Homo sapiens: one gene and its partners. The protein of the gene in region 1 purifies or fractionates together with the protein of each later gene. This does not show direct contact. Each region holds a gene or a part of one and is shown in the gene's direction. Other genes may lie near its edges.

Region 1 (3,652 bases):
AGCATGCTGGGAATGCAAAGATGAACAAGACCTGACCACCATGCTGACTTTCAAACCCTGTGATTTGGTAATGGGAGAAAGACAAGTACCAGTCAATACAGGTGTGGTCATTCTAGGATAGAAATCACTAGAGGTGGGGCTGGGTGTGGTGGCTCATGCTTGTAATCCCAGCACTTTGGGAGGCCGAGGTGGGCGGATCACGAGGTCAGGAGATTGAGACCATCCTGGCTAAGATGGTGAAACCCCGTGTCTACTAAAAATACAAAAAATTAGCCTGTAGTCCCAGCTACTTGGGAGGCTGAGGCAGGAGAATGGCATGAACCCGGGAGGCGGAGCTTGCAGTGAGCCGAGATCACGCCACTGCACTCCATCCTGGGCAAAAGAGCAAGACTCCGTCTGGAAAAAAAAAAAAAATCACTAGAGGGTACCATGAAAGCTCATAAGAGGGGACATTTCATCCACATTGGCGCTGAATCTGGGATGTGCCCCTGGAAGAAGGGTTTCCTGAGAGTTTTAAAGGACACGTAGAAATTAGCCAGGAGGACAGTGTGGGGGTTGACTTGTGTCTGAGGACCCTGCATTTCTTCAGAGTGGATGTAAGAAGGATTTGGGGAGTGATGTGGAACTGCAGGGGCTACAGGGCCAGGTGGGGCCCCTGCTAAGGGGCTCTTAGCTTTTATCCTGTGGATAGGTGGGGGCCTTTGGAGAATTAAGCAGGGAAGTAATATGATTAGGAAGATGATTCTAGTGGCAAAGTAGAGAATGGGTTGCAGAGGGGCAGGGCCAGAGGCAAGAGAACCAAGGAAGAAGCTTATGCAGTTGATCAAGTAAGATATTCGGATGTCATGAAGAAAGCAGACTTGAGAAAGAATGAAGTGGAATAGATGAGTTGTGACCTCCTGGACATTGGAGAGAGGTAGGAGTCAAAGAGGTTTGTGGCTAGGATGGCTGTGGGTGGGTGATGTTACTGTTCACTGGATGGAGACTGCAAAAGCAGGGGCTTTCTGGTCAGGGAAGATGATGAATTCAGCGTTGGACATGTTGATTCTGTTGTTGTTGTTGTTATGGAGCTTCACTCTTGTTGCCCAGGCTGGAGTGCAATAGTGGTGTGATCTTGGCTCACTGTAATCTCTGCCTCCTGGGTTCAAGCGATTCTCCTGCCTCAGCCTCCTGAGTAGCTGGGATTACAGGCATGCTCCACCACGCCTGGCTAATTTTGTATTTTTAGTAGAGACAGGGCTTCTTTCATGTTAGGCTGGTCTTGAATTCCCGACCTCAGGTGATCCACCCACTTTGGCTCCCAAAGTGCTGGGATTACAGGCGTAAGCCACCATGCCCAGTTGACATGTTGATTGTTGATTTCAAAGTACCTTCTGGATCTCCTGGCACCATCTCTCACTGGCTGAACTCCAACCAGGGAGCCCGCTGATGCAGTCCATTCAGATTCTCCCTGGATCTCAGGGAGCACAGCAGGGAGGGATGGAAAGTGGATTTGGAGGGACAAACAGATTATATCTAGCAGATTAATACATGTTATAAAAAAGATACACAAAATAAGGATTGAAATACCATTAGCAGGCCAGGCACAGTGGTTCACACCTGTAATCCCAGCACTTTGGGAGGCCAAGGCGGGCAGATCACGAGGTCAGGAGATCAAGACCATTCGGGCTAACACAGTGAAGCGCCATCTCTACTAAAAATACAAAAAATTAGCCAGGCATGGTGGCAGGCACCTGTAGTCTCAGCTACTCGGGAGGCTGAGGCAGGAGAATGGGGTGAACCCGGGAGGCGGAGCTTGCAGTGAGCCGAGATCGCCCACTGCTATTAGCAGCAAAAGGATTGTAAGGATTGTTGGTGGCTTTGCATTGCATAGTGTTATTAGAGTCAGATTCTCCTCCATACTTAGGTATTTTTTGAGGGCCTGTACTTTACCCTCAATGGACATGAGACATAGTTCTTGCTTTTGGAGAGTTTTGTGAGGGTTATAATACATCATGGTTAAATAGTTCCCTTTTTTTTTTTTTTTTTTTTTTTTTTGAGACAGAGTTTTGCCCTGTCACCCAGGCTAGAGTGCATTGGCGTGATCTCCACTCACTGCAACCTCCGTTTCCTGGGTTTAAGCTATTGTCCTGCCTCAGCCCCCCTAATAGCTAGGACTACAGGCACGTGCCACCATGTCCGGCTATTTTTTTGTATTTTTGGTAGAGACAGGGTTTTGCCATGTTGTTCAGGCTGGTGTCAAACTCCTGGCTTCAAGCAATCCACCTGCGTTGGGTGTCGGCCTCCCAAAGTGCTGGGATTACAGGCGTGAGCCACCATGCCCAGCCATGGTTAAATAGTTCTGATAGTGGTTATCTCTGTGTAGGGAATCTGAGTGACTGGAGGACCGGGAAGGGAAGTTTTTTTTTTTTTTTTTTTTGAGACAGAGTCTCGCTCTACCCAGGCTGGAGTGCAGTGGCGCAATCTCGGCTCACTGCAAGCTCCGCCCCCTGGGTTCATGCCATTCTCCTCCCTCAGTCTCCCAAGTTGCTGGGACTACAGGCGTCCGCCACCACGCCTGGCTAATTTTTCTATTTTTTTAGTAGAGACGGGGTTTCACCGTGTTAGCCAGGATGGTCTCGATCTCCTGACCTCGTGATCCACCTGCCTCGGCCTCCCAAAGTGCTGGGATTACAGGCGTGAGCCACCGTGCCCCGCCAAGATTTTTTTTTTGACTTAATTTTCCTTTGTTCGTTTGGATTTGTATCATGACTGTATTATCTATTCAAAAATATAAATTGAAGTTTTAAAAAGCAATCTTAGTGATCATATAATTAAGTACCAAAGTGAACGGTATGGACCAGAGGTAGTGGTGGACTGTTGACCTGTGGGCTGAATCTGGCCCTCAGAAGGGTTTTATTTCACCGACATGGGGCCTAGCATTTTCTTTCATGGAGTGATCAACAAGTCATAAAGGCAGATTTATTGGAGGCCATGGAGGCTCAGAGGTGACTGAGGCTTTGCTGTTTGGTGCCTGGGAGGAAAACTTGTGTGACGGGGCAATCAGGAAGCCTCATTTATGGCCAGTTAGATTTGGGTGACTGGTGAGGCATGAGAATGGAAGGGACCAGCAGGCAGCTTGGAAGTCAGAATCTGGTGCAGGTGAGCAGCCAGGGGGAGATGCACACTTGGCGGTTGTCAGCATGGAGATGCATTGGGCAGGGATAAGGTGGAAATCCAGCAAGATAGGAATTTGGGCCATGTGAATGCTGGAGACCCCCCTGCCACTTCCCCTGCTCAGGCCTATTCTATGTGAATAGACAAGTTCTGTGAACAAGAAAGAGGGAAACGCAGAAGGGCAAAGACAGCTTTGAGGAACATGGAGCAGGGATGAGAAAAATCAGAGGAGCCACTAAAGGAGAAAGGGAAGCACTAGGCGAAAAGCGGGGCGGAGAGCCAGCAGGTGAGCAGCTCTGTGACTGCCCCTCCTGGATGGCCTGTAATCTAGGGCCAGAAGAGTTTTATTTTCAGGTTCAAAGAGAAAGGACCCATTTCCCCATCTTAACCCTCTTTTTTATTTTTTTGAGATGGAGTTTTGCTCTTCTTGCCCAGGCTGGAGTGCAATGGCGCGATCTTGGCTCACTGCAACCTTTGCCTCCCAGGTTCAAGCGAT
Region 2 (3,752 bases), on another chromosome or scaffold:
TCCTTAATTTGAACTCCAATGATGTGCATTAGAGGTACTTAGAAGCGTACTGTCTGCAGTTTACTTTTAAATGTATGAAAACAGATAGATTGATGAGGTATGTGACAAAGCTGGTAGAGTAAAATTCTGTACTCTCCAGGTCAGTGTTTTTCAACCTCAACACTATCAACATTTTGGACCAGCAAATTTGTTGTTGTCGGGGGATGTCCTGTTCATTGTAGGAAGTTGAGGAACATCCCTGTGCTCTACCTACCCCATGCCAATACCATCCTTCCAGTTGTGACAACCCAAAATGTCTTCAGACACTGCTAAATAGAGGGGAAATCCATCCTTCCCCTTCTCTTGAGGTCTGCTCCACTGTAAAATTCTCTCGACTTCGCTTTACACTTGAATTTTTTCATAATAAATGTTGGAGGAAAAAATAAATTATGACATTGAAAAACGCTCATGAAACACTATGCAGAAGACGTAGTTTATGAAGACCTACAATACATACTGTCGTATTTTTGTTTAAAAAAAAAAAGTGGAGGGGAGACCTAGCAGTGATATTTAGTATTGCTAAATGTCAATGTTTACAAATCTTATCTATGACATTTCTAAAATGAATATTATAAAGTGTATTGCATATAGTTGGATTGGGAAGAAAAACATTTCTAATTATTCTCCTGTCAGCATCTCCTTCAAACTACCCTTTTATTAACAGGGATAGATATGCATTCACACGGTTCCTCCCAGCTTGGTTAATGGGCAAGAACACCTAAGATAGCCAAGGCCACCATGCATCCAGGCTCACATCTCCCTAATTGCCCTCCTCCATGATTCAGGGACAAGGAGGATCACCATCGTGTGGGAAGATACTAGAAATGTAGAATTTGGAACCCCACCCCTACCTACGGAATCCTGATCTGCACTTCAACAGGATCCCCGAACTATTCCTAGGCGCGTTCGAATTTGAGGAACATTAACGGACCAATTCTTTGTCCCTGAAAAGTGCCCGTTATAGAGGCGGCCGCTGGGAAATGACAACGGGGTTGGCATGGAGAGGTATTAAGTAGAAAAACTCCGGCCGGGCACGGTGGCTCAGGCCTGTAATCCCAGCACTGTGGGAGGCCGAGGCCGGTGGATCACCTGAGGTCAGGAGTTCGAGACCAGCCTGGCCAACATGGTGAAACCCCATTTCTACTGAAAAATACAAAAATTATCTGGGCATGGTGGTGGGCGCCTGTAATCCCAGCTACTCGGGAGGCTGAGGCAGGAGAATCGCTTGAACCCAGGAGGCGGAGGCTGCAGTGAGCCGAGATCGCGCCACTGCACTCCAGCTTGAGAGACACAGCGAGACTCCGTCTCAAAAAAAAAAAAAAGGAAGAAAGAAAGAAGAAGAAGAGAACTCTGCGACTGAAAAGTACCTAGCAGGGACAACGCATTCCCTACGTCCTTCCAAGTGCAGACACCAACACCGGCGGACGCGGCTCCCAACAGGCGAGCCCCAGCTTCCGGTCCGCGGCCTTGGACGCGCATGCGCCGCATGCTTTTTTTTTTTTTTTCCGGTAGGTCGCCAGCTGAGGCGGTTTGTAAGTTTTGGGTCGCAGTATGCTAGAATTTTGAGGCTCCCTTCTGATGAAAATTGAGCTGTCCATGCAGCCATGGAACCCGGGTTACAGCAGTGAGGGGGCCACGGCTCAAGGTGAGTCTCGCCTCAGCTAGCGCCAGTGGTGACCGCCACGGGGGTTTCCCACGCTGCAGCGCCCAGTGCAACCCTTTGGGAACGTGCCCGGCATGGCGGCCCCGGTTCCCCTCACTGCATGCGCCCATCGGTCGGCTCGGTCCTCGGCGTTGCTTCCCGGCTTCTGCAGCCCTGCTCCAGCCGGGGACCTCGCCCCGGGGGCAATCAGGGTGCGAGGGCGGCTGCGTGCTGGGCTTTCTTCCTGAGAGCGTCTTGGCTTGGGTCGCGGGGTACCCTGCTCTGTTCTTCAAAAAAAAATCTGCAAGGAAAAGATATTATTCCACTCAGAAATCTCAAGTTTCAGTCTGCGTTCTCTTAAATATATTTTATTTTTTAAAAAAATAATAAAGGCGAGCTCTTACTATGTTACCCAGGCTGATCTTGAACTCCTGGGCTCAAGCAGTCCCCCTTCCTCTGCCTCCCAAAGTGCTGGGATTACAGGCGTGAGCAATCGCGCCCGGCCACAGTCTATTATCTTACAGCATTCGCTGAAATCTTGAATCATAAAATTATCTTGAGGGTTTTTTGGAAGGACTGAAATCTCTTAAGCGAAAATAATTTGGCAGATAAATGACCTGTGACATCACTCCCGTAGTTGTCCGTTCAAGAGTCCCTCCGTCCCGTTCTTCTTTGCTAATCCCATTTCATCTTCGATACCTCCAATTCAATAGCACCCTCTCCCAACTTTACTCACTCCCTGGGAGACTTTAAACAAATATATAGTTCCAAATAAGTGTTGACTCCCAAGATTATATATCTAGCTGAGTCTCTCGTAGACTTCAAAACTATACATCTAACTGCCTGCTAGACCTCTCTATTTAACAGGTGTCTTAGTAGGCACTTCATTACTTGTGTCTAAAACCAAGCTTCAGCTCCCCATGACCATCAACGTCTAAATAAATGGCAGATCCATACTTTCAGTACCTTAAAGCCCCGGAGTCATTCTTCCGTGTCTCATGTAATTCATCTGTAAATCCTGTTGCCTCTGTTCTCTGCATGTATCCAGAACCTGAAGCTCACCAACTTGACCACTATAATCCTATCAAAGCCACCATCATCTCTCCCTAGTTATTGCGGTGTCTATATCTGGTCACCCCACTTTTCCTTTCACTTTTCTCCATAGCAGCAAGTGTGGGGATCTTCATAAGTCAAACCTCTCTTGTAGCTCTTACATGTCAGTCGGGATAAAATTCAAAATTCTGGCCATGCTTTACTAGTCCCAACATAAACTGCCCCACATTTCCTTACTAAACTCTTCTATTCCCCGTGTCCTCAGCTCACTGTGCTCTGGCCAGCTGTTCTAGCACCCTCCTTCCTCAAGGCCTTTGAATATGCTGTTCGCTTTCCCTTGAACACTCTTGGCCAAGAAAAACACATGGCCTCCTTTTTCAGTTCCTTAAAGTCTCTTCCCTACAGTCACCTTAGGAGAAAGGCCTTTCCTGACAATGCTGTGTGCAGTCTCACCCCTGCTGCCTCATTGTTTCCCTTATCCTTGTTTTCTTTTTCAGGTTTCTTCATAGCAGTTATTCACTGGGTACAAAAATTCTTTTTTGTTTTTTTTTGAGACAGTCTTGCTCTGTTGCTCTGGCTGGAGTGCAGAGGTATGATCTTAGCTCACTGCAACCTCCGCCTCCCCAGTTCAAGCGATTCTCCTGCCTCAGCCTCCCTAGTAGCTGGGACTACAGGCGTGGGCGACCACACCTGGCTAATTTTTGTATTTTTAGTAGAGATGGGGTTTCATCATGTTGGCCAGGCTGGTCTCAAACTCCTGACCTTAGGTGATCCGCCCACCTCATCCTCCCAAAGTGCTGGGATTACAGGCGTGAGCCACCACCGCACCTGGGCTGGGCGTATAAATTTGTTTTTGATGTCATGGTATCCTCCCACCAGTAGAGTTGTTTTATTACTTTCATTCATTGTTATCTTAGTGCCAGTGCTTGAACGTAAGTGCTTGAGAAACATTTGTTGAAATGATGACCAATAATAATAATAGTAATAAGCAGCCGGACACGGTGGCTCATGCCTGTAA
Region 3 (3,652 bases), on another chromosome or scaffold:
CCTCGATGTTGATGGCTGCTAATTGATCAGATTGGTGGTTGCTAAAGGTTAAGATGACTGTGACAATTTCTTAAAATAGGACTACAGTAAAGTTGACCACATTGATTGACTCTTTCACACACAAAAGATTTATCTGTAGCATGCAATGCTGTTTGATAGCATTTTACCCACAGTAGAGCATCTTTCAAATTGGATTCAATCCTCTCAACCCCAGCCACTACTTTATCAACTGAGTTCATATAATATTCTAAATCCTTTGTTGTTATTTCAACAATGTTTACAGCATCTTCACCAGGGGTGAAGTGATGTGAGTGATGATCTTCATAAACTCAAGAATCCACTTTCTTTGCTCATTCATGAGAAGCAACTCCTCATGCATTTAAGTTTTATCGAGATTGCAGCAATTCAGTCACATCTTAAGGCTCCACTTCTTATCCTAGTTTCACTTGCACTTTCCACGTATCTGCAGTTAATTCCTCCACTGAAGTCTTGAACCCCTCGAAGTCATCCATGAGTGTTCAAATAAGTTTCTTCCAAATGCCTGTTATTGTTGCTATTTTGGCCTCCTCTCTTGAATTCTCTGAATGGCATCTGGAATGGTGAATCCTTCCCAGGAGGTTTTCAATTTACTTTGCCTAAATTCATCAGAGGAATCACTGTCTATGGCAGCTATAGCCTTATGAGTCTTTTAAATAAGACTTAGAAGTCTGGCTCACACCTCTAATCCCAGCACTATGGGAGGCTGAGGTGGGCAGATTGCTTGAGTCAGGAGTTCAAGACCAGCCTGGGCAACATGGCAAAACCTGTCTCTACAAAAAGTACAAAAATTAGCTCAATGTGTGGCATGCGCCTGTGCTCCCAGCAACTTTGGAGGCTGAGGTGGGAGGATCGCTTGAGCCCAGAAGATCGAGACTTCAGTAAGCCATGATCGTACCACTGCACTCGAGCCTGGGTGACAGAACAAGGCCCTGTCTCAAAAAAAAAGGACTTAAAAGCCAAAATTACTACTTGGCCTTGACCTGCGGGGCTGCAAAATGGATGTTGTATTGGCAGTCATGAAAACAATATTAATTTCCTTTTACATCTCCATCAGAGCTCTTGGGTGATGAGGTGTGTTGTCAGTGAGCAGTAATATTTTGAAAGGAATCTTTTTTTTTCTGAGCAGATCTCAACAGTGGGCTTAAAATATCCGCGAACCATGCTTTAAACAGATGCACTTTGTTGATTTGTAGAGCACAGGTAGAGTAGACTTAGCATAATTCTTAAGGGTCCTAGGATTTTGGAATGACAAATTATTGGCTTCAACTCAAAGTCACCAGCTTCAATCTCTTTTTTTTTTTTTTTTTTGGTGATGGAGTTTCGCTATTGTTGGCCAGGGCAGAGTGCAGTGGCGCAATCTCGGCTCACCACAACCCCTGCCTCCCAGGTTCAAGCAATTCCCCTGCCTCAGCCTCCCGAGTAGCTGGGATTGCAGGCATGCACCACCATGCCCGGCTAATTTTGTATTTTTAGTAGAGATGGGGTTTCTCCATGTTGGTCAGGCTGGTCTCAAACTCCTGACCTCAGGTGATCTGCCTGCCTTGACCTCCCAAAGTGCTAGGATTACAGGCATGAGCAACATGAGCAACCACGCTCGGCCTTTTTTGGGTGTGTTTGTTTGTTTTGTTTTGTTTTGTTTTGTTTTGAGACAGGGTCTCACTCTGTCACCCAGCCTGCAGTGCAGTGGTGTCATCTTGGCTCGCCGCAACCTCTGCCTCCCAAGCTCAAGAGATCCTCCCACCTCAGCCTCCCGAGTAGCTAGGACTACAAGCACCCTCCACCACGCCTGGCTAATTTTTTTATTTTTTGTAGATACAGGGTTTGGCCATGTTGCCCAGGCTGGTTTTGTTTTGTTTTGTTTTGTTTTGTTTGAGATGGAATCTCGATGTCACCCAGGCTGGAGTGCAGTGGCACCATCTCGGCTCACTGCAACCTCCACCTCCCAGGTTCAAGCAATTCTCCTGCCTCAACCTCCCAAGTAGCTGGGATTACAGGTGCCCACCACCACACCAGCTAATTTTTTGTATTTTTTAGTAGAGACAGGGTTTCACCATGTTGGCCAGGCTGGTCTTGAACTCCTGTGCTCAAGCGATCCACCCACCTCAGCTTCCCAAAGGGCTGAGATTACAGGCGTGAGCCACTGCATCAGCCTGCGTTAGCTTATTAAGAGCTAATTAAGCTCTTATTAATAAGGATATTTCACATTTTACTTCCCCGTTCATGAGTTCATGGACATTTAGGTTATTTCTACTTTTTCACTATTATGAATAATACTACCATGAACATTAGCATACATGTTTTTGTGTGAACATGTTTTCATTTGTCTTGAGTATATACCTAGTAGTAGAATTTCTGGGTCATAAGATAACTGTAGGTTTAACTTTTTTTAGCAACTGCCAAACTGTTTCCCAAAGCAACTGTACCATTTTAAATGCCAAACAATGTATAAGAGTTCCTATTTTTCCATGTCCTTGTCAACTCTTTTTATTGACTGTCTTTTTTACAGTAGCCATTCTACTGGGATGAAATGGTATCTCATTGAGGTTTAGATTTGTGTTTCCAGATGGCACATGACATTGAACATCTTTTTATGGCTTATTGGCCATTTATGGGTTTTTTTTTTTTTGGAAGAAATATCTATTCAAATTCTTTGACTTTTTATTTTTCTTAATTTTATTTTAGATTCAGAGAGTACATATGCAGGTTTATTACATGGGTAAATTACATAATGGTGAGGTTTGGGCTTCTAGTGAACCCATCACCCAAATAATGAATATTGTACCCAATAGGTAATTTTTCCACCCTCAACCCCTTCCTATCCTCCTCCCTTTTGGCGTCTCCCTTTTGGCGTTCTATCCACAAAGGCGTACCCTTTGCTTAGCACCTACTTATAAGTCAAAATATGCAGTATTTGATTTTCTGTTTCTGAGTTATTTCATTTAGGATAATGGTCTCCAGCAGCTGCTGCAAAGGACATGATTTCATTCTTTTTTAGTATTCTATGATGTATATATACACCACATTTTCTCATTTGTGTCCTATAAAGCAAACAGCTGCCCTCACAGTTCTACTAGCACCTAGTACTTTAACATCTTTGATGTTATTATTGCTATAAAAATTACCCACAGCTGAGCCCTTTAAGTACATTATATGATTGTCTTTTTTCCCATTTCTTCATCTTTAAATTAATAACTGCCTTTTAAAAATTATTACTTTTTAAAAATATCCTTTAATAGATATCCTAGATATCTGTTCCCAAATTCTAGGCAAAACCAGTCTACCAGTTTCATTTTTCCTTGCAATAACTTTCCTGGAGCAATTCAGTCTTTTGCTATAGTCCTGCCTAGTTGCTTTCTAGTCTGGCTGCACAAATGTTGACTAGCATTTGTCCTTCCCCATGGTCTTTGCCTCTCCCATGTTAGACTACCTGTCTCCTGGGTTCCCATGTCTTTTCCTTTTGTGATTCATTTCCTTATTTTGGTGGAGGATATTCTTCTGTAGCTTTCCAATAAAGTGTGTATGACAGATAAGAGACTTTGCATTTCTGAAAATATGTATTTGCCCTTGTCTTTGAGTGATAGTTTGAGTATCTATGGTGTTCTAAAGCAGACAT

Evidence for each region.
Region 2: the proteins of ATF6B (region 1) and RWDD2B purify together in Homo sapiens (affinity purification with mass spectrometry; 3 studies listed by BioGRID and IntAct, with this or other methods). This does not show direct contact.
Region 3: the proteins of ATF6B (region 1) and LYRM7 purify together in Homo sapiens (affinity purification with mass spectrometry; 3 studies listed by BioGRID and IntAct, with this or other methods). This does not show direct contact.

What each region holds. Positions count from the first base shown.
Region 1 is NC_000006.12:32,121,613-32,125,264, reverse strand, and holds part of ATF6B (cyclic AMP-dependent transcription factor ATF-6 beta), read left to right. Parts: intron 1-3,652.
Region 2 is NC_000021.9:29,017,143-29,020,894, reverse strand, and holds the start of RWDD2B (RWD domain-containing protein 2B), read left to right. Parts: upstream 1-1,545; 5' UTR 1,546-1,617; coding exon 1,618-1,684; exon of another isoform or gene 1,685-1,982; intron 1,983-2,647; exon of another isoform or gene 2,648-3,309; intron 3,310-3,752.
Region 3 is NC_000005.10:131,173,869-131,177,520, forward strand, and holds part of LYRM7 (complex III assembly factor LYRM7), read left to right. Parts: intron 1-3,652.